Linked DNA regions of Homo sapiens. The protein of the gene in region 2 purifies or fractionates together with the protein of the main gene of each other region. This does not show direct contact. Each region holds a gene or a part of one and is shown on either strand. Other genes may lie near its edges. The genes, in order: AMH, PHACTR3, ATP10B, RRP12, KCNK3, CAPRIN1 and LSM14A.

Region 1 (4,118 bases), on a different chromosome or scaffold from region 2:
CAGGGGTCCACCCCCCGGCCCCAGTGGTGCATCCCCCTGCATCTGGGGTCCATCCCCCAGCTCCTGGCGTCCACCCCCCAGCTCCTGGCGTCCATCCCCCAGCCCCTGGGGTCCACCCACCAACCTCTGGGGTCCACCCCCCAGCTCCTGGAGTCCACCCTCCAGCCCCCGGGGTTCACCCACCAGCCCCCGGAGTCCACCCACCAGCCCCTGGGGTTCACCCACCAGCCCCAGGGGTCCATCCTCCCCCATCAGCGGGGGTTCACCCCCAGGCCCCGGGGGTGCACCCAGCAGCCCCCGCCGTTCACCCTCAGGCCCCAGGGGTGCACCCACCAGCCCCAGGGATGCACCCTCAGGCCCCGGGGGTCCACCCCCAACCTCCCGGGGTCCATCCGTCGGCTCCTGGGGTCCACCCTCAGCCTCCGGGAGTTCACCCCTCAAATCCTGGGGTGCACCCCCCAACTCCCATGCCCCCAATGCTGAGGCCCCCACTTCCCTCCGAAGGCCCAGGGAACATACCTCCCCCTCCCCCAACCAACTGAGAAGCTGCTCCCTCCCCCAGCAAGCCCAGCGCCAGGTGCTCTTGCCTTTTCCCACTGAGAGAAGGCTGCTCTTTTGTACTGCCCCCCGCTCATTAAACAGCCTCCCCCAGCCCTGAGTGCACTGATGTCCGCAGCGCCGCCCTACTGTGTCAGTGTGTGTGGGAGTGCCAGGCACAGCACCATCCCCCAGTTTGGGCCGACTGGGGAGGGCCTGGGGCCCGCCAGGAGACACCTGTGGGAGGCCTGAGAGATGGCTGTACCTTGGAGATGGCCTGGTGGAGGACAGACCCCACCAGCCAGCTAGGAGGGGATCTGGGGTCCTGTTCTGGGGAGGGAAGAGCAGACTCCACGATATCCTTGGGGTCTCCAGATAGCCCACCAGGGGTGGGGAGGGTGAGCAGGGACAGGGCGCCCCCACTGACTTGGGACCCTCCTCCTCCAGGCCCACACCTCAGCACCCAGGACATCTGGGCCCCCCGCCCCCAGCGCTGTCTAGTTTGGTTGCCTGGCCGTCACTCCCAGCCTGGTTCCCACTCCTGTGTCTTCTGGGGATGGCCCTCAAGGACGGCATGTTGACACATCAGGCCCAGCTCTATCACTGGGGAGGGAGATAGGCTGCCAGGGACAGAAAGGGCTCTTTGAGAAGGCCACTCTGCCTGGAGTGGGGGCGCCGGGCACTGTCCCCCAAGGTCGCGGCAGAGGAGATAGGGGTCTGTCCTGCACAAACACCCCACCTTCCACTCGGCTCACTTAAGGCAGGCAGCCCAGCCCCTGGCAGCACCCACGATGCGGGACCTGCCTCTCACCAGCCTGGCCCTAGTGCTGTCTGCCCTGGGGGCTCTGCTGGGGACTGAGGCCCTCAGAGCAGAGGAGCCAGCTGTGGGCACCAGTGGCCTCATCTTCCGAGAAGACTTGGACTGGCCTCCAGGCAGCCCACAAGAGCCTCTGTGCCTGGTGGCACTGGGCGGGGACAGCAATGGCAGCAGCTCCCCCCTGCGGGTGGTGGGGGCTCTAAGCGCCTATGAGCAGGCCTTCCTGGGGGCCGTGCAGAGGGCCCGCTGGGGCCCCCGAGACCTGGCCACCTTCGGGGTCTGCAACACCGGTGACAGGCAGGCTGCCTTGCCCTCTCTACGGCGGCTGGGGGCCTGGCTGCGGGACCCTGGGGGGCAGCGCCTGGTGGTCCTACACCTGGAGGAAGGTATGTGGGGCCCAGCCCCAAGCTTGGCACCGCCGTCTTCCTTCAGGTGGGCCGGGTCCTCCTAGGGAAGATCAGGGGCTGGCAGAGCCCCCACCCTGGGCAGGGAGGCTGTGGTCTTGTTCCTAGGACTGGGTTGCGGGTCCGTGGCCTGGAAGGTGGGCACCACACTCTGTCCTGTCCCCGAAGCCCAGCTCTTAGACTTGCCCCTGCCTCGGTGCCAGGGAGAGAGCTGCTGCCTTCTCCCCACCCCTGAAGACGACGCAGGGCTCGGGGCCAGTGGAACCCTTCTTCCCACAGCCCCAGCCTGTTCTCAGGGCCGCTGGCCTAAGATACTCCCTGCGGGGAAGGGGCTTCATCGGGCACCCCAACCCAGAGACCCCAGGGCGGCAGCCCCACCCACAGCCTCAGACGCAGCCCCTGCCTGCCCCTGCCGTCACCGCTCCCTGGCTGCAGGAAGGCAGCTAAGAGGGGCACCCTTGTCCCCCGCTTGAGGTCCCCTGCACAGTGGCCAGAGCGGCAGGGACAGATCCCAAAGATTCCCGGGGGGTGTGGCCTTCAATGGCTCAGGCGTCCCCTGCTGTCCCGGCTGCAGTGACCTGGGAGCCAACACCCTCGCTGAGGTTCCAGGAGCCCCCGCCTGGAGGAGCTGGCCCCCCAGAGCTGGCGCTGCTGGTGCTGTACCCTGGGCCTGGCCCTGAGGTCACTGTGACGAGGGCTGGGCTGCCGGGTGCCCAGGTACCAGGGAGTTGCATGGGGCAGTGCCCGGGCCGTGGCGGGGGGCATGGATTTGTTGCAGGGTCTGCAGTACTGAGAACAGCGTAGAACCAGTGGCGATGGGAGGAAGGGGACCGGTAGAGCGGGGCTGGGTAAGCCTCCATCCAGCCGGGCTGAGCCCTGGTCTCCGCAGAGCCTCTGCCCCTCCCGAGACACCCGCTACCTGGTGTTAGCGGTGGACCGCCCTGCGGGGGCCTGGCGCGGCTCCGGGCTGGCCTTGACCCTGCAGCCCCGCGGAGAGGGTAGGTCCGCGTGGAGAGGGACGGGGAGCCGGGTCGACTGCCCCCGGGCCCCCAGCCCCTGAGCCAGCCGCGTGCCCACCCACCGCAGACTCCCGGCTGAGTACCGCCCGGCTGCAGGCACTGCTGTTCGGCGACGACCACCGCTGCTTCACACGGATGACCCCGGCCCTGCTCCTGCTGCCGCGGTCCGAGCCCGCGCCGCTGCCTGCGCACGGCCAGCTGGACACCGTGCCCTTCCCGCCGCCCAGGTGCGCGCAGGCACCGGGACACGGGGCAGGAGCGGGCGGGGGCGGCGTGGCCTCGTGGCCGCTCTCAACTCCTCCAATTGCGGGTTCCAGGCCATCCGCGGAACTCGAGGAGTCGCCACCCAGCGCAGACCCCTTCCTGGAGACGCTCACGCGCCTGGTGCGGGCGCTGCGGGTCCCCCCGGCCCGGGCCTCCGCGCCGCGCCTGGCCCTGGATCCGGACGCGCTGGCCGGCTTCCCGCAGGGCCTAGTCAACCTGTCGGACCCCGCGGCGCTGGAGCGCCTACTCGACGGCGAGGAGCCGCTGCTGCTGCTGCTGAGGCCCACTGCGGCCACCACCGGGGATCCTGCGCCCCTGCACGACCCCACGTCGGCGCCGTGGGCCACGGCCCTGGCGCGCCGCGTGGCTGCTGAACTGCAAGCGGCGGCTGCCGAGCTGCGAAGCCTCCCGGGTCTGCCTCCGGCCACAGCCCCGCTGCTGGCGCGCCTGCTCGCGCTCTGCCCAGGTGGCCCCGGCGGCCTCGGCGATCCCCTGCGAGCGCTGCTGCTCCTGAAGGCGCTGCAGGGCCTGCGCGTGGAGTGGCGCGGGCGGGATCCGCGCGGGCCGGGTCGGGCACAGCGCAGCGCGGGGGCCACCGCCGCCGACGGGCCGTGCGCGCTGCGCGAGCTCAGCGTAGACCTCCGCGCCGAGCGCTCCGTACTCATCCCCGAGACCTACCAGGCCAACAATTGCCAGGGCGTGTGCGGCTGGCCTCAGTCCGACCGCAACCCGCGCTACGGCAACCACGTGGTGCTGCTGCTGAAGATGCAGGTCCGTGGGGCCGCCCTGGCGCGCCCACCCTGCTGCGTGCCCACCGCCTACGCGGGCAAGCTGCTCATCAGCCTGTCGGAGGAGCGCATCAGCGCGCACCACGTGCCCAACATGGTGGCCACCGAGTGTGGCTGCCGGTGACCCCTGCGCCGCGCGGACTCCTGCCCCGAGGGTCCGGACGCGCCCCAGCTCGCGCCCCTTCCCATATTTATTCGGACCCCAAGCATCGCCCCAATAAAGACCAGCAAGCAACCGGCTGGGGTGTCCGTGCGTGTTAGGGGGCCCGTGGGACCTCCCTTGCCGTCT
Region 2 (3,500 bases):
TCAGGAGCCTAGCAGCTGGCACAGGCCCAGAAGCTCTTAGGTGTTCAGCACAAACTCTCATTCCAAAAGCGTCCTGGCAGGACTGGTGCAAACACCAGATCCCTTTAATCCCACCAGCAAAACAACCAGATCTAAACTACCCCATTCCCTAAAAACCAGAAACAAACTTCCAATACAATCCTGGGATGTGGACAGCATCAATAAAAAGTATTCCTCAAAACCCAAAAGGAAACTGTAAACCTCGTGGAGGACTTTAGTTATTTCGCTTTCTCTACAAGCACCTGCTTGGCCACACAAGGCCAGGCCACAGGGAAACGGGCCAGGCCCTGCCGTCAGCTGGTGGAGACAGACAGAGGCCAGGCAGACAGAAAGAGAGCAGATGATTGTAGAATAGAGAAGGAGACAGAAGGAGAGGGAGAGAAAAGGGCTGGGAGAGAGAGTGGTGGAGGGAGGGGGGCGAGAGGGCACCACGCAGGTGGGCTGAGAGTACTGGGCTGGTCGGGGGGAGGTGGTAGCTGGTTTGGGAGAGGGAGGTCAGGAAAGGCTGCTCTGCAGAGGGAAACTTTGAGCTGAGACCTGAGAAATGACAAGGAGCCAGCCATGCAAGAAGTGGCCAGGCAGGGCAGGGGCTGCAGGGAGACCCATCCCCAGCTTCTGCACACTGCGCTGTCCTCTCCCCACTGGCCTCAGCCTCCCCAGGCTGCTCCTGCTCAGGACAGTGCCCCACTCCTGAGCACACGCAGGTGACACGCAGCATCCCCCAGCCCCTCTGTCTCTAACCATCATTGCCTCTACTTCTCACCCCAGCCCCATGAGGAAGGAATCACTAGCCCTCTTGTACAAATAGGGAAACTGAGGCAGCGTGGTTTGCCTGCTCTCGCTCAGCTTGGTGGAGCTGGGATCCCACCCAGGTCTCTGCCCCACTGTCAATCACAGATGTGACAACCAGCACTGCCCCCACGGCCCCCATAGAGCTTTGCCTGGCTCGCCCCACCCAGCTTGTGCAGGGGACCACTTGTCACCCCCATTTCACAGATGAGGAAGCTGAGGTTCAGAAGCCACCTCAGGGGCAGGCTGCCAGGAAAAGGTGGGGGCTGAGAACAGCACATCGCACCCAGCTCCACTTACACTTGGCAGAGGCTGTGGGACTCCCATCCCGCAGAGTTGAGCGTTACCAACTGGACCAGGTGACAGCAGGGGTAAAGGAGAGGTAAAAGGGAGAGGGGTAAACGCATCTCCAGGGACCAGGCAGGTGAAACCCAGGAATGCAAAGGACCTCCTGCAATTTCTCCATGGGGGCAGGGTGGGGACCACAGCACACAGAGGAGAACCTGCCCACCTTAATGGGCCTGTAGTGACTCAGAGGGTGATCAGAGATGAAGACTTTTCAAGAAAGTCCAGGAATTTGGCCTATGAACCAGGAAGCAAGCCCTCATCAGAGACACCAAATCTGCCGGCACCCTGATCTTGGACTTCCAGCCTCTAGAAGAGTGACGAATAAATTTCTGTGGTTTATAAGTCACTCAGATGAACTAAGACACCTGCAGTCCTGCCTTGGGTGGAGACTCAGTTGGGCCAGGGTCCCTCCTGCAGCAAGGGAAGCCCAGGTAAGGAGACTTTCTTCTTTGCTACCATCTAGTGTTCACATGCTGAAGCACATGAACCTTTTCCCAAAGGAAAAGGAAAAAGAGGAACTGAGAAAATTAAATCAAAGTCACCAAAATGTAGTCTGTGCAGGAAGAAGCCAGGCCAGGACCCATAGCTCGGAACTACCCTCCTCCACCTCCCAGTCTCAATTCAGTCCCTATGGAAACGCATAAGTGTCAGAGTATCCCCTGATGTCCTTGCAACTGAGGGCAGGGCGGAAGCCAGAAGTGTCCGCAGACTGGGGACAGAACGCCAGAATTTAGGGCGTGTGGAGTCAGAATGAAGACCTGTGCCATCTGAGGCTCGACCTTCCCAAGCTTGGGAGAGGCAGGAAACTCTCTGGGTTACCAAGTTATTGAGGGCCAGGAACAAATTATACATTCGCCAGAATAAAATGAGGTGGATGGTGGCTAATTGAATGGACTTTAAATGGTTTTAGGTTTCAATGGAGGAAAAAGGGAGCTATCACAAAGACAATAACAAAATGCAAAGTAGCACAGTTTTGCCTCAAACTTTGTACTGTAATTTATGTGGCCATGTTGCATAAAGACTGAATATTTGGATTCATCTACAGAGATGTAGAAAGATGCAGAAAGCAGACAGACAGGGTTCAGAGCACGCATGCATTCATTCACTCATTCATTCATCCATCCAACCATCATCTGCACTTGCTGAGTGCCTGCTGTATGCCCTGTACTATGCCTGCACTTGGATTTGACAGTGAACACAGACGTGTGGCCGTCTCTCAGGGACTACTGTCTGGGGGGCAGGTGGTTAGAGAGAGGCAAACCATCCAACAGACAAGGCGTGTATGGCTCCTTGGGCAGCCCAAAGCAACAGAACAACTCTCACAGTTTTGGAGACCAGAAGTCTGAAATCAAGATGCTGGCAGCGTTGGTTCCTTCTGAGGCTGTGAGGGAGATGCCGTCCCAGGCCTCTCCCCCGGAAAATTCTTGGCGTTCTGTGGATGCATCAGTCCCATCCCTGTGTGTCCTGTCCTGCCTGTCACATGGACACTGTCATTGGATTCAGGGCCTAACCGAATCCAGCATGAGCTCAGCTTGATCTTTAACTTAATGGCAGTTGAGAGACCCTTATTCCAAACAAGGTCATGTTCTGAGGTTCCAGGTGGATGGGAATTTTGGGGTGACACCATTCAACCCACTAAACAAGGTGGGGCAATGTGGTAAATGCTGGAAGATGGGGCGCATGGTGCTATGAGGTCAAGGGTCAGGGCTGGCTCCCCTGGAGGAGAAACAGCTTGAGCTGTGGTCCCAAGCATGCAAAGGTACTGACCAGGCAAAGCAGGAAGGGAGAATGTTCTGTCAGGGAGAACAGCTGGGGCCAAGTCTCAGGGTGGTGGGGTGGCGGGGGCGCCCCCTCACTCATCCCTCCACCCACCCAGCAGCACATTCTCCCACAAACCAATACTACTTGGGGAACCACAGGGCACCACAGCCCCACATCTAACCCATCCAGGACATCTGCAGTCCCAGCTAAAGAGGCCCCCTGTGGGGTGCATCTCACCTCCTCCGTTTCTGTGGTATCTGGCTGAGAATCATCAGTTAGACTGGAATACTTAATTCGTGTTAGGTGTACAAGGAAAATGCCCCACTGAAAGCATTTTCCACCCAAGAGTCCCCTCCAGATTGAACATTCACCCCATAAGGGGCAGTAAGGTCCCCAGAAAAGAGCCAAGGGCTGGGACCCAGCCCTCCCGAGCTCATGCCCGGGCTCTCCTTGTCTCAGCAGCTGACACCTCTTCCAAAAGGTGGCAGTTCCCTCTTTCATGAAAACTGGGAAGAAGCACAATGAGGATTAGGTGAGATCGCAGAGGGGAGGGCACCAGCCCC
Region 3 (3,500 bases), on a different chromosome or scaffold from region 2:
GTGCTATGTAAGGAAGGTAGGTGGTCTAAGGTACTGTTCCCAAACAGCTGTTTGCATGAGAACCGCCTGGGAATTTAATAATTGAGATTCTCAGGTCCAGTTAAAGCCCAGCTGAATCAGGGGACTAGAAGTTTGAATCTTTATTGTTACCTAAGGTGTTTTTAGTTGATCTCTGGATGGCCAACTGACTTTGGAAACTGTTCTCTATTTATCATCTTCTCTATCTTCTACTTGAGGTCTTATATCAAATTAGGTCCCAAGACATCTACAAGCCTGGATCTCATTAGCTAAGTTCCTCATTTCATTTGTTTAGCTGAGCTAGGCCTTCTCTCAATGCAAGAAATACGTTTAGAGAAAACATTCTTTTATGCATTTCCTATGAATGTAGTATGAAAAATATGTGTGTTGCTCAAAGTCCCCTTTGTAAAGTTGTACATAAGTTTCTGTCAGAGGTAATTTGTCTTTTTCTCTTGAAATTCCAGTTCCTTTATCTAATTCTATAATAAGAATTTTTCAGCCAAGGTTGGCTGGTGTGGGGTGGGATTGATGCCATCAGCACTTCCTTTATCTAAACTGCCACAGACATCATTTATCAGTCGCTTGTAAAACTGAGCTAGGCTTCAGAATCATTTTTTACCAGGGCTGGATTGAGATTTTTTAAAGGTCCTAAGATTGAACAGAATTTGTATACCTCACCCATCCTTGTATATAATGCAAAATTAAAAATGTAATTCTTAACAGAAAAGTATAATGAAGTCCAACAAAACTCTGATTTTTCCATGATACTACTCCAAGGCTGTTTTTATATAATATAAAACTTGTTTCAAAGATTATTTTCTCATTTTTCAGGTGTTGCTGGCGCCTTAAGCATAGTCTTCATTTGTGCATCGCCTGATTCGGCACTATTTACAATATTTTATTTTTAAAGACACCAGCTCCTGAGATTAAACCTGTTTGTCTTTTACTTGTAAGCCTTGGAGTTTACCTTCTTGCTAAGGCTGCCAGGAACCTCAGCATCAAATTGAACATTTAAACACCATAAATATTATTAAACCTGAGGTCATTTTCTCCCTCCTTTCAAAGTTTTGCTTCTCAATTCTTATAGTAACATTGTGTGTGTGACTTCTATTGAAGGCATCTCTAATCCATTTTTCAATCAGGTGAGGAGCAAATAAAGAGACATCTCCAGGGCAGCTTGGATGACTGGCTGCTGAGGGATAGAGTGCCGTGGCTCCCTTGACTCAGAAGTACTGAATTCACTTGTCTGCCAGAGTCTGGGAATAAAGAGAACTAATTAGCTCCCTTCCCATTCTACACACTAATCAATCCCCATAAACCTCTTGGCCCTGATCCATGGCTGATAATGCAGGAGGCACAGGGCTGCCTGGGCAATTCTGAAGCTTGGCTGGAATCTACTATCCTGGGAGAATCATAGCCCCATAACTGTCTTCTCCTTGTTAGCAATCAGGAAGCGGCTGCACACTAATTCATGCTGTTCCAAAATTGGACACTGATATGTAGGGACTTTGGAACATTTTTCTGGCTCAGTGCACGTTTATGAAAATCCATCTGGGGGAGGCTGGGGAAAAGGATAATAAAGAGGAACACCTGAGGCTTCCCAGAGTACACCAAGCCCAGTGCAGAATTCTGGCAGCATGAAACAAGCTCTGACCTGGAATTCAGGATACCTGGGTCTGGGATTTAACACTAGTTAACCATGTTACCTCTTGTAAGTCACTTTTCTTTCTAAGTTGAGTGTGCTTTTCTCCAAAATGAAGAGTTAGGACCACAATGTGTTCCATGGTAAGATAATGGATGTTCTAGTGCAAAAGACTGTGTGGATAATCCATGTTTAAATGAGTTTGGAAAACTGGGATGAAGTTAAAGATGTTTATCTGCTACAAGACTGTACAGTCTTTAAATATGCTAATGGACACTGTGATTCCCTAGGTCCAGGAGATGTAAAATGCAGCATGTTTTAAGGATATTTGAGGAAAACATCTTGTAGGTCTGTATTCCAGTTGGGACCTGCCATACCAGGTGACACTACAACTTGAGCTTCTTATTACCATTCCACACTGCTTCTTAAACTATAGAACTCTCTGTGCCTGGAACCCTGGTAAGGCAGGACTCACCGCAGGCTGGGTCTTCCAGCAGGTCCATGATGACCGAGTCAGCACCCTTGGTGTAGACAACAATCTCGCCAGTCAGTGGGTGCCTCACAACCACAGACATTCTCTTCCTGACAGAGTCAAAGCCCAGGGTGCAGAGGAGGCTGAAGGTGAGGCAGGTGCCCTGGGGCAGGCGCACAGTCACCTGCTCAGGTGTCCGGGACACTAGTGTGAAGCTGTAGGCATGGGCAGCGTGCACCAGGGCGGCCTCATCAGGGCTCTCAGCCTCGTAACAGAACTCAGGCCTGGCCAGGTCTGTGGCTGGGGCCTCCAATGCCTCCTCCAAGGAAGTGCCTGACCCAGACTCCAGGATGTCGCCCTGGTCCCACATGCTGCTCCTGTAGCCACCGTCATCAGTGGAGTCACCTCCACTGCACACAGATGCATCATCTCTCTCATCCGAGTCTGTGGTGGCCACGTTGGCCCCTAAGCTCTCCCCGAGGTCTGTGTCAGAGGGTGCAGTGGATGAGAATGACTGGCTGAGGCTCAATAGCTTCAACTTCTGGAAGAGCTGCTGAATCTTCTCCAGGGACGTCCCCAGAGCCTTGCTTGAGGGTTTGATGGTGACCTTGTGGCCAAAGAAGGAAAGTGGAATATTACTCTCAATGTTGGAAATAATACCAAGTTGTCTTATGCGGAATATGAAGGTACTTTTGCAATAAGTGAAGCCAGATATTTTCCTCCAGCCCTGAAATTCTAAGCATTGACAATGGTCATTTTCCACTATCTTTTGATCATCCCACTGTGAGCGTGGAGAAAGGAAGGAAAAGGAGATGAGAATCAGAAACTCATAGTAAGGGTTCACATTTCCTGAACTCTCACTATAAATGCTTCTGCTTTATCTTTGAGTGCGGTATCTCATTTCATCCTCCCAATAATTCTGTGGGATGCTATCATCAACCCAACTTATGGCTGAGGACATTGAGGTACAAAAAGTCTACATAAATTGGCCATGATCACCCAGTGTGTAGGGAGTAGAGTTGGAACTCAAACCCAGGTCTCCTCGACTCCAGAGGCTGGGCTCTTGAGCTACCTGCCAGCTGAAGCTCCCAGCCAGCTGAAGCTCCCACATTAACTTGAAAATTGGGAGGTGCCTACTGTCTTTCCCCAAATGGTACTTCTTCCCCTCTTAAAAATGAATTAATTTTTAAGATAAAGCTTTCTGCCTCCAAAAACTTCCTGAAGACTTCTGATAACATGCTGACTTTTCAGTGCTGAAGTGATTTTCAGGGTGGTTTGGAATCTGGGCATAATGAAGGGAGGTTGTGGTTTAGTGCCTGGGTGAAACTTCTTGTCTTGGTTTCATAGTTGCAAGTTGTACCACCTAAT
Region 4 (3,500 bases), on a different chromosome or scaffold from region 2:
TCCAGTGGCAGGTAAGGGTCAGCTGGGGGAGGGCGTGGGGAGAAGCACACAGGGGCACAGGTGGCTGCGTGTCACCTTCCTTTATTGTCCCCTCCTTCTCCAGATGTGGACACTCCTGCCTGGGTTCTGCACAAGGCCTACAGATGTGGCCATCTCCTTCAAAGGGCTGGCACGGACGCTGGGCATGGCCATCAGCGAGCGTCCAGACCTGAGGGTCACCGTGTGCCAGGCCCTGCGCACCCTCATCACCAAGGGCTGCCAGGCAGGTACGTGTGGGCTGTGGGAGTGGGGGCTGGGGAGGATGACACAGGTCCCTGGCCCCATCCCCTGGCTTGCTACACTCCTTGCCAGGCAGAGCCACAGAAACTCACCTCTGGAGCTCATCCTTTGCTGCTTCTGCTGCAGACCCCAGGGGATAACTTTGCTGGCTCCCTGGGGTTGGAGCCATCGAGGACCATGGGCCACTGGGGCACCAGGCTCTCCATGCCCTGGCTCAGCTTCTGCCACAGAGAGCCCCAAACCCATGGATTCCAAGTCCTGCCAGCTCCCCCAAGAGAGGGCCTCTGGGCCACAGCCCCAGCAGCCACTGAGGCACAGTCAGCTCCTGTGCCTTTAGTGCAAACTTTGATCCTTTTACCAGAGGCTGACCGTGCTGAAGTGAGTCGCTTTGCCAAGAACTTTCTGCCGATCCTCTTCAACCTGTATGGGCAGCCCGTGGCAGCCGGGGACACTCCAGCCCCTCGCCGGGCTGTGCTGGAAACCATCAGAACTTACCTCACCATCACTGACACTCAGGTGAGCCACGGAAGGGAGGGAAGGAGGGAGGAGGGGAGCTCTCAGGTGGGCAGGGTCAGAGAGGCCGAGACCCTACCCACCAGGGCTCACGTGGGTCTCTGTGTTTTGGAGCACATACCAGCAGTCATGGCTTGGGCAGGGCTGGGGGCTGATGGGGAGGCCGCTCTGGGACTGCTGCCATTGCTGCTTTCTTTCGCTCCTCCCCAATGACTCTCTTCTCCTCATTCCCTCGGGGCCACAAGTTGGTGAACAGTCTCCTGGAAAAAGCCAGTGAGAAGGTGCTCGACCCTGCCAGCTCTGACTTTACCAGGTAACATGCTCAGGGCCTCCCACTTGAGCTGGAGCAGCCCAGGGAGCTGGAGGGTGCATCTGGCAGAAGCACTGTGGGTTCCCTCTTGCATTATTTAAGGAAGCCTTGAAGTATTAACTCTCCAGGCTGTGCTGAGAGGCTGTGCTGACTAGTTCCTTCTTCCTGGAGAGGCCATTTAGTCTGGTAGGGAGGAACAAGGACCCAGGAGATACACTGCCCAGGTTCTGATCCCAGCCCCGTCACTCATGGGCTGTGTGACCTTGGACAAATTACTTATCCATTCTGCCTCTAAGGCCTCATCTGTAAAATGGGCACGATAATAGTTCTTGCAACAAGGTTGCTATGAGGATTGAAGGAGTTAGCAGGTGTAAAACACCAGGAACGGTGACTGGTACATCATGAATGCTCAGTTAGGTACTAGCTATTATTATTGTTCATGAGCTCCTTCAAGCCCCTTGTCCTCACCCTGACTTCTCCCACCTCCCCATACCCAGTAGACGTAAGAACACTGGTAGTCTGCGCCCTTCTCCAGCTCCCCATCCCTCTCCTTGTCCTCCTGCCCCGAGCAGATTGTCTGTCCTGGACCTGGTCGTGGCCTTGGCTCCGTGTGCTGACGAAGCTGCCATCAGTAAGCTATACTCCACCATCCGGCCCTACCTAGAGGTGAGCCTCGGGGGCCAGGAGCGCCACACAGCCACGCTTGGGGGCAGATGGGCTGTGGGAAGGTGGGGCCTGTCTTCATGTCTTTGTCCCTTGCTGCTTCCCGAGATCAGGTCCCTGTCTGCTTTCTCCTGCAGTGGCTTCTCTTTGTGTCCTGTGTAGCCCATCTGTCTTGCAGGTCCCAAAGGGACTGAAATGCACAGCTGTGCTTAGGCCTTGCGTGCTGAGTGACTCTTGTAGAACCAAGGCCATGCTCCTTTGCCTGGCTCACTCCCCAGGCCCATCCCAGACCGGCCTGAGCTTTATCCCACCCAGTCCACTCTCTACTTCTGCTGCAGCCTCCTTCAGCTGCCTTAAGCCTCCCTGATATAACAGGCCCTGTCTGTGCCTTTGCAGGGTTTGGGTCCTCAGCTTGAAATGCCCTCTGCTGTGGCCAGCAACCCTGCAGATCTCAGCCCAGCAGTGACCCCCTGAAAGCTGCCCCCATTGCCACAGTTTAGTAGCAGTTACCTAACAGTGTGAGAAGTGCTCTGGGGCAGCACTGCAGGTGGACATGGAAATCCAGGGCCAGGCCACGTCACCTCAGGAAAGGTGTCCGGCGTTGGGGGTTGGGGGAGTGTGACAGAGAGCTGGTTTGGAGGAGCAAGGAGTTGTCAGTCTTGGAAGGAGAGAGAAGAGTGCTCCGGCTAGAAAGAGCAGCAGATGTGCAGGCCTTGGCGCGTGCCAGGCACCATGAGCTCAGGCCACTGGAGTGAGCACTGTCCAGAGCTGGGTGAGTGGAGTGGATTGGTGGGCCCCACGGCACACACCCCCAACCCCTGTGCCTCGCCCAGGAGTTAGCCACTCGCTGTCCACATTCCACTGGTCCTCTGTCAAGCCACATGAGCCCCCACGGACCCCTGCTCAGAATCCCTCCAGTGCTGGGGGATGCTCCGTGGATAGCATTGGACAGGGAGTGAGCCCCAGGCCTCCCTCACCGGTTCCTGTCTGCCAGAGCAAGGCCCACGGGGTGCAGAAGAAGGCCTACCGAGTGCTGGAGGAGGTGTGTGCCAGTCCTCAGGGCCCCGGGGCCCTCTTCGTGCAGAGCCACCTGGAGGACCTGAAGAAGACACTGCTGGACTCGCTGCGGAGCACCTCCTCACCCGCCAAGAGGGTGAGGGCTCTAGGGCCACCCGCTCTGCCGAGGGAGCCTGGGCAACACCAGGAAAGGAGCCACTGTTGAGGCTTGTTGGGTGGAGGTAGCATTGAGGGGTCCTGACTGGTAGCCCTTTGCCCACAGCCCCGTTTGAAGTGCCTCCTACACATCGTGAGGAAGCTCTCAGCTGAACACAAGGAGTTCATCACTGCCCTCATCCCAGAGGTGAGTGTGCGGGTGTGTTTTAGAGGGGGGTCCCTGGAATGTGGCTCTTAAGGGCCTCAGGATCCAGGGAGGGCAGTGATGGGAGTGGGAGGACTCGATTCGCTTCCCGGGCAGATGGCTCAGGGAGCAGATGCTGATGGAGTTGTCTTGGCCAGGTGATCCTGTGCACCAAGGAGGTGTCGGTGGGCGCACGGAAGAACGCTTTTGCACTGCTCGTGGAGATGGGCCATGCTTTCCTAAGGTTTGGCTCGAACCAGGAAGGTGAGGCCCAGGGGGCTGGGGGTGGACACTCTGCTCATAGACTGGGTGGGGGGAAGCACCCCTCAAAAAAGGTGGGGAGAGCTCTGTGCCCTGGCCCTGGGCAGGCTGCTCCTC
Region 5 (4,282 bases), on a different chromosome or scaffold from region 2:
AACAGCGTGTCACCCAGATCATCCTCACAGTGAGACCTGCAGTTGTCCAGAGCAGTGGCCTGGGAGGCTTTGAGGAGGAGGGGGGATTTGAGCTGGACCTGGAAGGTTAGCATGGACAAGATAAATAGAAGGTAGAGCCAGGCGCAGTGGCTCACACCTGTAATCCCAGCACTTTGGGAGGCCCAGGTGAGAGGATCGCTTGAGGCCAGGGGTTTGAGGTTGTGCTGAACTATGATTACACCACTGCATTCCAGCCTGGGTGAGACAGAGTGAGACTCTTTCTCTCAAAAAAAGAAAAAAGAAAAGAAAAAGGGCAGAGAAAAAGGCATGCCAGACAGGCATACTTAAGGTATTCTCAGAGGACAGGTTGGCAGCTATCGAGAGGGATCACATAAGTAAGAAGTGAGATGTGAAGTCAGACATAGAGGTTGGAGCCAGGTATGGAGATCCTCAAAATTTGAGATAAGGAGCATAGACCAGATTCCATGGACAGTGGAGAGTCATTGAGGGATTCCAAGAAGGGAATTGGTTTGGTGACAGCTGAGTTTTTCTTTCTGGCAGCATTGTCCAGGGGAGCATGCCTTGTTGTGGGGTAGGCAGGGAGGTCAGTTGGGAGGTTACTATGAAGCTGGGGACCATGGGCCTGAGAAGGAAAGGGGACACGCGTGAAGGCTTGACGTGTGGAAAAGAGGGAGAGAGAGGGTCCAAAGATGTTCAGTCTGATTCTTTTGATTCTCCAGACAGCTAAACAGCTACTGAAACCCTGGCAAATAGTAGTGGGGTGTGAGAGTGGAAGAGACTGCAGACCAAATCTGGGCTGGTGTTTTTCAGGAAGCGGGCTCCTCTTTGGGCAGACCTAAGTCTGATCATCCTATCCTAAACTCACAGGACCAGTAGGACCCAGAGGTGCCCCAGCTGGGCCACATCCACTCCCAGGGCCCTTTCCTCCCTCTTCCAAGAGAAGAATCCAGAAACGACACAGCATAGCTCCCCATGGTCCCCAGGGAGCCGTAGATTCTTGGAACAGTGTCCTGCAGTGGATAGACCGCAGGAAGAGTGTCTAGTCCTGCCTTTTACTCCCTCAGCTCCTGTTGACTCCCAGGAAAACAATGCCATCTTCATGGGCTGCGCTAAGTGGCAACGAACCCCTGGGAGTCTGATCAAGGCAGGGAAGGGGACTAGGGAGAGGAGAGGGAACAGTAAAGACAGAGGAAACTGCTTCTGGAGGCATCTCAATGGGCTTTGGGGGAAGGTGGGTTTCATCTCAGAATCCAAGCACGTCGGGGCTGGGGAGGAGCTCTTGAGATCATTTTGGCCACCCCTCCTTGTCTGGAGGTGAGCCTGAGACCCAGACAGGGGAAGGGACTTGCCCAAGGTCATATATCACGGTAGTGATGGAGCTGGGCTGAAATCATAGGGTGTTGGGGACAGGTAAGGTGTTATTCCCGTCTGGACAGTTTTGAATAGCACCACCAAGGGCCTGGCTAGAGATTCCTTTCCTGGGCAACGTTTGTTCTCTCTCTCTCTCTCTGTCTCTCTCTCTGTGTGTGTGTGTGTGTGTGCCCGCCCTGTGTGTACCCTGTGAGTGCCTGTGTGTATCTGTGTGCATGTGTGCCTATGCCTGTGTTGTCTGACAGTCTGGGTGTACGTGTGGCCTCCTACATGGTGATCTGCCCTGGCTTGGAAAGAACTGGGGTTATTCCTGTGAGGTGACTGTTTTGCTGGGACAGCAGAGAAGAAGGCTGACAAGGCCAGATCTGGCTTCCCGCACCAATTCTGCCGCTCTGAGAAAATCACAGGCACTGACTGGTGGCGACCAAACTCCTGGAGCTGAAACACGCAGACACACGTACACTCACAGCCGCCGTTATAGGGTGGCCCCAAGTGCCCCGAAGTGCCGCATTCCGACATCCTCATGCCTCCCCAGAGCCCAGCAGGTGTAGACCTGCTAGGCTGTGGAAGCCGATCCTCAGGGATACGGAGCACTGGCGCTCTCCCGCCGCTCACTCTCAGCGCCCTGTTCAGGGCCTGGCCCGGCCACACCCCTCCTGCCCGAGCCTCCGCCGGTCGTCCCTGCCCCTCTCACACACTTCGGAGTCCCTGGGGGCCTATGCAACATGGCAGGGCCAAGTTAGGGCTGGCCCGGCCGGAGAGTCAGGTCCGGAGCCAGGAATCGACGCCTCCCCGAGTTCCGTCCCCGCGGAGCACACACGCCAGGCTGAACTCGGGTTTCTGCGAGCGCAGGGTTCGGCGCCCAGCCCCTCTCGGGGGAGCCCCCGCCCCCAGCCCCAGCCGGCCCCGGACGACTCCCGGAGCCCCGCGCCCAGCCCTGGGTTCCCGCCCCCCGCCCGGCGAGCCGTTACCGATGGTGGTGATGACGGTGATGGCGAAGTAGAAGGAGCCGGCGAAGCGCCACTGCACGCCGGCCTTGTGCGGCTTGAGGCGCAGCACGACGCGCTCCAGCTCCTCGTAGCCGCCCTGGCTGAGGTTGTAGCGCGCCCGCAGCTCCTGCTGCCGCAGCTCCAGCCGCTGCCGCTCGATCAGCTCGGGCTCCGACTCCAGCGCGTCGAAGACCGCGGCGCCCACCAGCAGGTAGGTGAAGGTGCACACGATGAGCGCCAGCGTGCGCACGTTCTGCCGCTTCATCGTCCCGCCCGGGCCGCCGCCGGCCCCCCGGCGCCCCCGGCCCGCGCCTCGGCCCCGGCCGCCGCTGCTGCTGCCCCGGAGGCGGCCTGGGGCATGGCTGCGCTCGCCGCTCTCCGCGCCGGGCACCCGCTCAGCGCCCGGGGCCGCCGCCGCCGCCGCCGCCGCGGAGCTGTCCCTTCAGCACCACCCACCGCCCTCCTCCGCCCGGCCCCGCGCCCGCCCCCCGCCCCCCGCCCGCAGGCCGCCTCCTCCCGCCAGCCCTCCCGCCCAGCCAAATAAGGACTGGGGAGACGCGCCGAGGAGGGAGGAGGGGGGCTGGCGGAGGGGACGGGAGGGGCGGCCGCGAGAGAGCCCGGGCAGGACAGAGAGAGAGAAAGAGAGAGAGAGCGAGCCCGAGAGACAGAGAAAACTAGACAGCGAAACGCTGATAACTACGGAGAATGGGAGAAAGGCAGTGTAGGACTGAGGGAAGGGGGCTGTGTGACAGAGGAGGAGATAAAATCAGAGGTGCACTCAGACAGAAAAAGAAGAGAGGCGGGCAGAAAAATACAGAGCAAAAGATGGAAACAGAGAGAGCAACAGACTGAGACAGAGAGGCCTGGATTGCTGGAGATAAACTAATGACAGAGAAACAGACAGGAAGGCAAGGAAGGCAGAGCGAGCCCCTCCCCACCCCACCCTCCACCCTCATCACAGCATATTGCAGCCAGGAGGCACTTGGGGCCTCGCTGTCCTGCCCTTATCCTATGGATGAGGAAATGGAGGCCCAGAGAGGTCAAGTGACACGCATGGGCACGCAGTGATTTCGTGACAGCACTGGGACTCAGCCAAGCGTTCCTTCCTCCCAGGCCACACTCCTTCCTCCCTTGGGCCAGACTCTGGCTGTCTTGGAAGCAGGCAGGGCCCAGCTGTGGACCTGGGCACACATGAGCTGACACCCAAGGGAAAGCCCTGTTCTCAGGCAATGTGTGCCTTCCCAGGTCAGCACAGTTCTTGGAACTGGCTGAGAAGGCACAGGCTGGGAGTCTAGGCCTCCTGCTTCGCTCCCAGGGGCTTCTAGGCTGTCCCGACTCCCATGGTTCCTGTCTTGCACCCGTGCACCAGGCTGGGCTTAGGCTGAGTTGCCAGAGATAGCACCTGCCACCACCTTAGGGCATCCCAGCAGAACCGGGATCTAGCTGGAATTGGGCAGGTGGGGCCCAGAGCAGGAGGCTCACTGGCAGACTGCGGGAACTGGGGCAGGAGAGGGGGTCCCTATGCCTCAGTTTCTTCATTTGTCAAACATGGTGGCTATGGTGGTGAGGTGGGAAGGGTAGTGGAAACTCAGGCATTACTGACCCTCTCAGAGCCTTGTTTCCTTATCTTTTCAACGAGGTGTCGTAGCAGATGATCCCACAGGCCTTGCCCAGCTCTAAACAACTCCAGACTTGGATGGGCTGAGTGAGCAGAATGATTGGAATGCAAATCTCAGTGCCAAGAAGGGTTAAAAAGTCCTTCACAGGACCCTGGCATGGGCCAGGCAGAGAGACAGGGAAGAGACACCAAGGCCCCTGACTGAGAGCAGACTCAGGAGGCAGTCAGCCAGAAGCTGGAGCACTGTCTACCCACAGGCTGGGCTGACCTGTCACTGCCGGAC
Region 6 (3,500 bases), on a different chromosome or scaffold from region 2:
CAAAAAATAATTTGAACTAGTAAAAGGTCATTAGAACCTCCTTTTTTATTTTTTTACCTCTGAATCCATTGGCAGGGCCCCGGTATCCATTCATCAAGCCTCTAGCACCACGGGAGCCTCCACGAGACACACCACGACTATTGTAATAGGGCTGATTGCTACGTGGAAATCCAGTGTTCTGCTGAGGAGGCTGCTGGTGGTTACCAGTCACTTGATGGGACTGGTCTGGGGAACCATGGTAAGTGCCAACCACTATAATTTAAAAAAGAAAAAGATATATACATAAACAGCTCATTACCGTTTGTTCTCCCACGCACTTTCTAGTTTAAGAAGTGTCTTATACAGTCTCCTTAAAGTTTAATCCTTAAATTTGCATACAATGATAAGAAAAACTACACATGAATAAAGTCTCTTACCTTTCTCCTACCCTTAGACTCAGCTATTGGGGGTAAAATTCTCCAACCACAATTCCAAACCTTTGAAAGCAGGGTGCATGATTGATCCTTCCAAACAAATTATTTGAAAGGCTATATTAACGTCTTCTGAAAGGCATCTACTTTTTAGCACAAGAGACCCAAAATAACTCAAAAGATTTACTCTTAGTACATTACCATTTTGTACCATTTAATTACTTCTTTTCATTATAAAGCTCCTTAGTGGTAGAAGTTTTCTTATTCTTTTAAATATCCTTTTTTTTACTTAGTAAAACATACAAAACCACTCTCTCATATTTAAGCAGCTAGATGGTAGAATATGTCATCAACTACATAGTTTAATCAGCAGAGGCCTTCGACTTGTAGCCCTTAATGCCAAATTCCATTTCAAAGTATTTAAAATGGCAAGTATAGCCAATTTAGAAAACAATCACATGGTACTCACATTGGCACTCAACCCACTTGAAGGTTCTAGACTAAGGTACACACTAACATATATACAAGCTCCATCCACAATGGACAGAGTTCTAGAATCTAGAAATTTTCAAAAATTCAATACTACAGAACAATGTTTATAATTCAAAGAGGAGAAAAAAATAGGGTGCTAAAAGTACCTTTGGGAGGTGAGGAAGGCAACAGAACAAAGGAAGGCCCACACACTAACAACAAGGGTCAGAAGCTGCTGGCCAACCCAAATCTCCCCTTTTGGGGCAGAGAGAAAAGCAGCTGTATGACTCTTGAAAATCTTTACTTGACCTATTTTACACCCTTAAGAAACTCCAAATACATTAATAGTTGTTAGAATCCTATTTTACGATGAAAGCACTAGGGAATACCTAGAGAAAAAGAGAGAGCCACTGCTCCTCTTGAATTACTTAGTAAACCAACTACATCGGTGTCATCTTTTTACATAGATTGCCTTTTATTATATTCCCAAAATTTAAAATTGTAAGTGAATGACAAATACACATAACATTTTCCTTGTAAAATGGTTCATGTGTATCCATGTACAAAGTAGCCAAAAGAACTGAATTTTAGAATCATTTTATCAATAACAGCTTTTAATCTTGATCAAATCTCACTGTAAGAAATTCATAGCCAGGCTGGGTGTAGTGGCTCACACTGGTAATCCCAGCACTTTGGGAGGCCAAGCTGAGCAGATTACTTGAGCTCAGGAGTTTGAGACCAGCTGGGCAACACAGTGAGACCCCATCTCAACAACAACAACAACAACAAAATACAAAAAATTAGCCAGGCATGGTGGTGCATGCCTGTGGTCCCAGCTACTTGGGAGGCTGAGGTGAGAGGATGGCTTAAGCCTGGAAGGAAGAAGTTGTAGTGAGCCGAGATCGTACCACTGCACTCCAGCCTGGGAGACAAGAGCAAGACTCTGTCTCAAAAAATGAAAGGAAAAAGGAAAGGAAAGAAAGGAAGAAACTCACAGCATAATAACTTAAGTGTGATCTTTATTTTATTTAATTTTCACTTTTAAGACAAGGTCTAGCTCTCTCACCCAGTACTGCTGAGGTTGGAGTTCAGTCAAATAATCTTGGCTCACTGCAACCTTGAACTCCTGGGCTCAAGTGATCCTCCGGCCTTAGCCTCCTGAGTAGCTACAACTACAGGCATTCACCACCTCACCCTGCTAATTTCTGTATTTATTTTATAGAGGTGGGGCTCTGTGTTGCCCAGGCTGGTCTCAAACTCCTGGTCTCAAGTGGGCCTCCCAAAGAGCTGGGATTACAGGCGTGAGCCACCACACCCAGCCTTCATTTTATTTTAAAATACCCAAATTCCTACTTAAATTTTGGTAAAGTATAAACTTGTAGGCCATTTTAAAAAGCCAAAGATTCTGTCATGTTGTTCCTGATTAGACACTAATTCAAAATAAAATTTCTAAAATGATGGGACATACTGAAATGATTTCTTCAACAAATATCAGGCCGGGAATGGTGGCTCACGCCTGTAATCCCAGCACTTTGGAAGGCCGAGGCGGGTGGATCACCTGAGGCCTGAGGCAGGAGGCCGAGGCAGGAGAATCGCTTGAACCCAAGCGATTGAACCTAAGAGGCGGAGGTTGCAGTGAGCCGAGACTGCATCACTGCACTGGACAACGGCCCACAATGTATACATATTATTTCATCATGAACGCCTGGCCTCAAGCAATCCTGCCACCTCAGCCTCAAATGTAGCTGGGATTATAGGTGCCAGCCATGAAGCCCGCCCACAACGGACACACATTTCAACACATCATGCTGTATACCATAAATACACATATATATAGTTTCTACTTCTCAATTAAAAATAAACAAATGAACTTTTTTTAAAAAAATAGAAAAAGCAATCCATGTACTTATCAGTGGGAGAAAGTTTTCGGCAAGAAGGAAAGTAAGTATGAAGGCCCTGAGATTAAAGAGAACTTGCTGCGTATGTGACTGGTGTTCGAGACCAGCCTGGACAATATGGTGAAACCCTCTCTCTACTAAAAATACAAAAAAAAAAAAAATTAGCCAGGCATGGTGGCCTGTGCTACTTGGGAGACTGAGGTAGGAGGATCCCTTGAACCCAGAAGCAGAGGTTACAGTGAGCCATGGTGATCACACCACTAGTTTTTATCATTTGGAAGCTGAGCATAGTATAACTGATAACTTCTATCAGAGTATGGAAGATTCGAGCTTCATATTAGTGATACTGAATACTACAGGATGTGTAAGAATTTACTACTGAAAAATCTAATGCTGATCCAAGTTTACCAAGAAATTGAATAATTAGAAAATTTTACAACTTTTCAAAATCGGGCTGACAAAATGAAAGTATTAACTCCTCTGACTGCTGGTTTGTTGTGGGATTCCAATTAAATTCTGAGGAATTAAAGAACTAAAGAAGACATCATGGTGGCTCATGCCTATAAGGTAGAGGTGGGAGGACTGCTGGAGGCCCTGAGTTTGAGAAAAGCCTGCAGTCCAAGCTACTTGTGGGGAGTTAAAGGCTCCAGTACAGGATTTGAGCCCCAGAGTTAAAGGCTCCAGTATCTGATTACACCACTGCACTCCAACCTGGGCAACA
Region 7 (3,500 bases), on a different chromosome or scaffold from region 2:
ATTTTCTAAATAAGGTAGATTATACATTCCCTTTTTAATTTAGAAGAGTTGTAAAATTATAATTTATTTTCCATTAATAAATTTGAAAATATTAATAAAATGAATGATTTTAGAATGTTATATATTACAAAACAGATAAAGAAAATATAAAACCTTATTAAATCAATAATCATAAAAGAAAACTACAGCTCTTAAACAACTGATTCAAAAACAGGATCTGGGCTCAATTTTTTTTTTTTTTTTTTTTTGACAGACTCTCGCTCTGTTGCCCAGGCTGGAGTGCAGTGGTACGATCTTGGCTCACTACAACCTCGCCTCCCGGGTTCAAGTGATTCTCCTGCCTCAGCCTCCCGAGCAGCTGGGACTACAGGCGTGTGCCACCACACCCAGCTAATTTTTCTATTTTTAGTAGAGACAGGGTTTCACCGTATGGCCAGGCTGATCTCAAACTCCTGACCTCGTGACCTGCCCGCCTCGGCGTCCCAAAGTGCTGAGATTACAGGTGTGAGCCACCGTGCCTGGCCTCTGGGCTTAATTTTAATGAGGAAACGTTTCAAACTTGTAACATGAAGAAAATTCCATTCCCAAAGGCATAGAAAACAATGAAAACCAATTTTATAATCCTAACTTGAAACTGACACAAAACATAAAAACCACAAAAGTAGAAGCCATAGGAAAATGTAAATATAAACGAACAAATCCTTCTAGCAGGAAATACTCAAGAACATATTAAAAGATAACTGCCTGGCTGGGTGCGGTGGCTCACGCCTATAATCCCAATACTTCGGGAGGCTGAGGTGGGTGGAAAATAAGGTCAGGAGTTTGAGGCCAGCCTGGCCAACATGGCAAAGCCCTGTTTCTACTAAAAATACAAAAATTAGCTGGGTATGGTGGCACGCGGCTGTAATCCCAGCTACTAGGGAGGCTGAGGCAGGAGAATTACTTGAACCCGGGAGGCGGAGGCTGCCGTGAGCTGAGATCACACCACTGCACTACAGCCTGGGTAACAAGAGTGAAACTCCATCTCAGAAAAAAAAAGGCCTACCACTAAGTAGAATTTTTTTCCAGAAAAGTAAAATTTTTTTTTTTTTGAGACAGAGTCTGGCTCTGTCGCCTAGGCTGGAGTGCAGTGGAGCAATCTCGGCTCACTGCAAGCTCCACCTCCCCAGTTCACGCCATTCTCCTGCCTCAGCCTCCTGAGTAGCTGGGACTACAGGCGCCCGCCACTGCGCCCGGCTAATTTTTTGTATTTTTAGTGGAGACGGGGTTTCACCATGTTAGCCAGGCTGGTCTCGAGCTCCTGACCTCGTGATCCGCCCGCCCCGGCCTCCCAAAGTGCTGGAATTACAGGCGTGAGCCACTGTGCCGGGCCCAGAAAAGTAAAATTTTAAAAAATCTTTTTATTTTAAAGTAATTATAGAAAAGAAAAATTGAAAAACTAGTTCAGAGTCGTCCCTTGTGCCCATCACCCAACTTCCCAAACTCCAACAGTCACATCTTATATAATTATGGTACATTATCGAAACCAAGAAACCGACACAGGCACAATCTAATTAACTAAACTACAGACCTTGCTCAGATGTCACCAGTTTGTACATGTACTCATTTTTTGGTATGTCTTTATGCATAGTTCTATGATGTTCTACCATATATAGATTTGCAAAACTACCACCACAATCAAGATAAAGGACTGTTCTGTCACCACAGTGACACTCCCCTGTGCTCCTCCTTTACAGTCACAACCCCCGCCTTTCATTTTTTTATAGTAATTATGTATCATATATTTAAAATATTCTCCCTGTTGAGAAGCATAGAATATGACTTTTAGATCCAAGAACTTACCTACTTGTCTCTTGTTATCATTTCTGAGTTGCTCATTTTCTGGCCTTGAAACTTTGTGTACTTCAGCTACAGAAGAAGACATGCAAAGTGCCAAATCAACTCAGGGTACATCATCAAAAACTTCCATAGTTAGAAATGCAAACAAACAAACCAAAAAACCCAAAACAAAGCCTGTGCAATGCCCAAAAAACTATACCCACACCACCACCACTTTGAGTCAAATTTGAAAGACCAAACATTCTATCATATTCAGTTTAATTTTCTGGGATCATTCACATGAAGTAAATCCTTCTAATGAAAATAAAGTGAGTGGAAAACATTGATCAGTCAATTAAGGAACAGTAAACAGCTAAAGTTCTACCTCGCCTGTGCTCCTGATTCTCTCCTGCCTTTTGGCTGGCAGATGGCAAAGGCCTGGTTGATACAGGACTCCTTCTCCCAACAGCTGCTGGAGCAGGTAAGTGGGCTGAGGCGGTCTGCACTGCTTGTTCCATGGTTGGGCTTTTTCTCAAAGGGTCTAACTGAGGGCTTGAGCGACCTAAAATGTAACCAAAAGATAACAAACTACCCTATTGGGGATTTCAAAATAATCTAGACCCTAAAAAAAATTGTCCAGAGTTTTATTTCTATCAATTCAAACCCTTAGCACAAATTTGAATTAATCCACTTATCAGACCAGATATTAAGAATGGTATCCTTAGTGGGCTTGTCATTAGGTTAAAAATAAAAAATAATAATAATTTAAAAAAAAACTTCAACAGCTTCAAAACAACTCCCTCCCCCTCACAATTTTATCTGTTATTTCTACTTAGTGGAAGAGTTTACATCAAAAAAAAAAAAAAAAATTGCTGCCAGGTACGAGATTCCCTAGAATTATCCTACAAATTATCATGTTGTAGTCAGGTCAAACACAGGCTTTCGCCAATGACAACCATAAGACTATGGTGACTTGTTTTAATCTTTCTTAGTACTTTCTGTAGATGACTAAAACAATACCTTTACATCTATCTACAGGTATTAACTCCATTAAATTTCTATTATAAGAAAGTAAAGGGCCGGGCGCAGTGGCATATGCCTGTAATCCTAGTCCTTTGGGAGGCTGAAGCAGGAGGATCGCTTGAGCCCAGGATTTCAAGACCAGCCTAGGCAACATGGCGAAACCCTGTCTCTACTGAAAATACAAAAATTAGCCAGGCGTGGTGGCGCGTGCCTGTGTTCCCAGCTACTCAGGAGGCTGAGATGGGATAGCTTGAACCCGGGAGGCAGAAGCTGCAGTGAGCCGAGATTGTGCCACTGCACTCTAGCCTAGGTGACAGAGCAAGGCCCTGTCTCATAAATAAATAAATAAATAAATAAATAAATAAATAAAGTAAAAGAACTACAAAGTTAGATAGGTGAAGTTCTTTAATGCTTTAGGGGCTTGGGTAATTAAACATAAAAACTAAAAGGCCAGCAAAAAAACAAACAAACAAAACCAAAAAACAAACAAAAAAAACCCTTCAGATAATTACACAGTAGCCATACTCATTCCTTGCCTTTTAAAAGATCTCTTGGCAAGTTTTTGCTTAATATGGGGTTTGGCTGGGCGCGGTTGCTCACACCTATAATCCCAGCAATTTGGGAGGCTGAGATGGGCAGATCGCTTGAGCTCAGGAGTT

Evidence for each region.
Region 1: the proteins of PHACTR3 (region 2) and AMH purify together in Homo sapiens (affinity purification with mass spectrometry; one large-scale study listed by BioGRID and IntAct). This does not show direct contact.
Region 3: the proteins of PHACTR3 (region 2) and ATP10B purify together in Homo sapiens (affinity purification with mass spectrometry; one large-scale study listed by BioGRID and IntAct). This does not show direct contact.
Region 4: the proteins of PHACTR3 (region 2) and RRP12 purify together in Homo sapiens (affinity purification with mass spectrometry; one large-scale study listed by BioGRID and IntAct). This does not show direct contact.
Region 5: the proteins of PHACTR3 (region 2) and KCNK3 purify together in Homo sapiens (affinity purification with mass spectrometry; one large-scale study listed by BioGRID and IntAct). This does not show direct contact.
Region 6: the proteins of PHACTR3 (region 2) and CAPRIN1 purify together in Homo sapiens (affinity purification with mass spectrometry; one large-scale study listed by BioGRID and IntAct). This does not show direct contact.
Region 7: the proteins of PHACTR3 (region 2) and LSM14A purify together in Homo sapiens (affinity purification with mass spectrometry; one large-scale study listed by BioGRID and IntAct). This does not show direct contact.

The regions. Positions count from the first base shown.
Region 1 is NC_000019.10:2,248,005-2,252,122, forward strand, and holds AMH (muellerian-inhibiting factor preproprotein), read left to right. Parts: upstream 1-1,318; 5' UTR 1,319-1,328; coding exon 1,329-1,740; intron 1,741-2,332; coding exon 2,333-2,475; intron 2,476-2,634; exon of another isoform or gene 2,635-2,647; coding exon 2,648-2,756; intron 2,757-2,844; coding exon 2,845-3,004; intron 3,005-3,094; coding exon 3,095-3,953; 3' UTR 3,954-4,069; downstream 4,070-4,118. Other genes in the region: SF3A2 (splicing factor 3A subunit 2), read left to right, coding at 1-542. UniProt on the Homo sapiens protein: Plays an important role in several reproductive functions. Induces Muellerian duct regression during male fetal sexual differentiation. Also plays a role in Leydig cell differentiation and function.
Region 2 is NC_000020.11:59,768,540-59,772,039, reverse strand, and holds part of PHACTR3 (phosphatase and actin regulator 3), read right to left. Parts: intron 1-3,500.
Region 3 is NC_000005.10:160,618,212-160,621,711, forward strand, and holds part of ATP10B (phospholipid-transporting ATPase VB), read right to left. Parts: intron 2,740-3,500; coding exon 2,136-2,739; intron 1-2,135. UniProt on the Homo sapiens protein: Catalytic component of a P4-ATPase flippase complex, which catalyzes the hydrolysis of ATP coupled to the transport of glucosylceramide (GlcCer) from the outer to the inner leaflet of lysosome membranes.
Region 4 is NC_000010.11:97,370,341-97,373,840, reverse strand, and holds part of RRP12 (RRP12-like protein), read left to right. Parts: coding exon 1-11; intron 12-103; coding exon 104-266; intron 267-640; coding exon 641-795; intron 796-1,037; coding exon 1,038-1,105; intron 1,106-1,674; coding exon 1,675-1,768; intron 1,769-2,759; coding exon 2,760-2,918; intron 2,919-3,044; coding exon 3,045-3,125; intron 3,126-3,280; coding exon 3,281-3,386; intron 3,387-3,500.
Region 5 is NC_000002.12:26,691,240-26,695,521, reverse strand, and holds the start of KCNK3 (potassium channel subfamily K member 3), read right to left. Parts: upstream 2,801-4,282; 5' UTR 2,647-2,800; coding exon 2,364-2,646; intron 1-2,363. UniProt on the Homo sapiens protein: K(+) channel that conducts voltage-dependent outward rectifying currents upon membrane depolarization. Voltage sensing is coupled to K(+) electrochemical gradient in an 'ion flux gating' mode where outward but not inward ion flow opens the gate.
Region 6 is NC_000011.10:34,093,231-34,096,730, reverse strand, and holds part of CAPRIN1 (caprin-1), read right to left. Parts: intron 253-3,500; coding exon 58-252; intron 1-57. UniProt on the Homo sapiens protein: mRNA-binding protein that acts as a regulator of mRNAs transport, translation and/or stability, and which is involved in neurogenesis, synaptic plasticity in neurons and cell proliferation and migration in multiple cell types.
Region 7 is NC_000019.10:34,214,004-34,217,503, reverse strand, and holds part of LSM14A (protein LSM14 homolog A), read right to left. Parts: intron 2,381-3,500; coding exon 2,204-2,380; intron 1,909-2,203; coding exon 1,843-1,908; intron 1-1,842. UniProt on the Homo sapiens protein: Essential for formation of P-bodies, cytoplasmic structures that provide storage sites for translationally inactive mRNAs and protect them from degradation. Acts as a repressor of mRNA translation. May play a role in mitotic spindle assembly.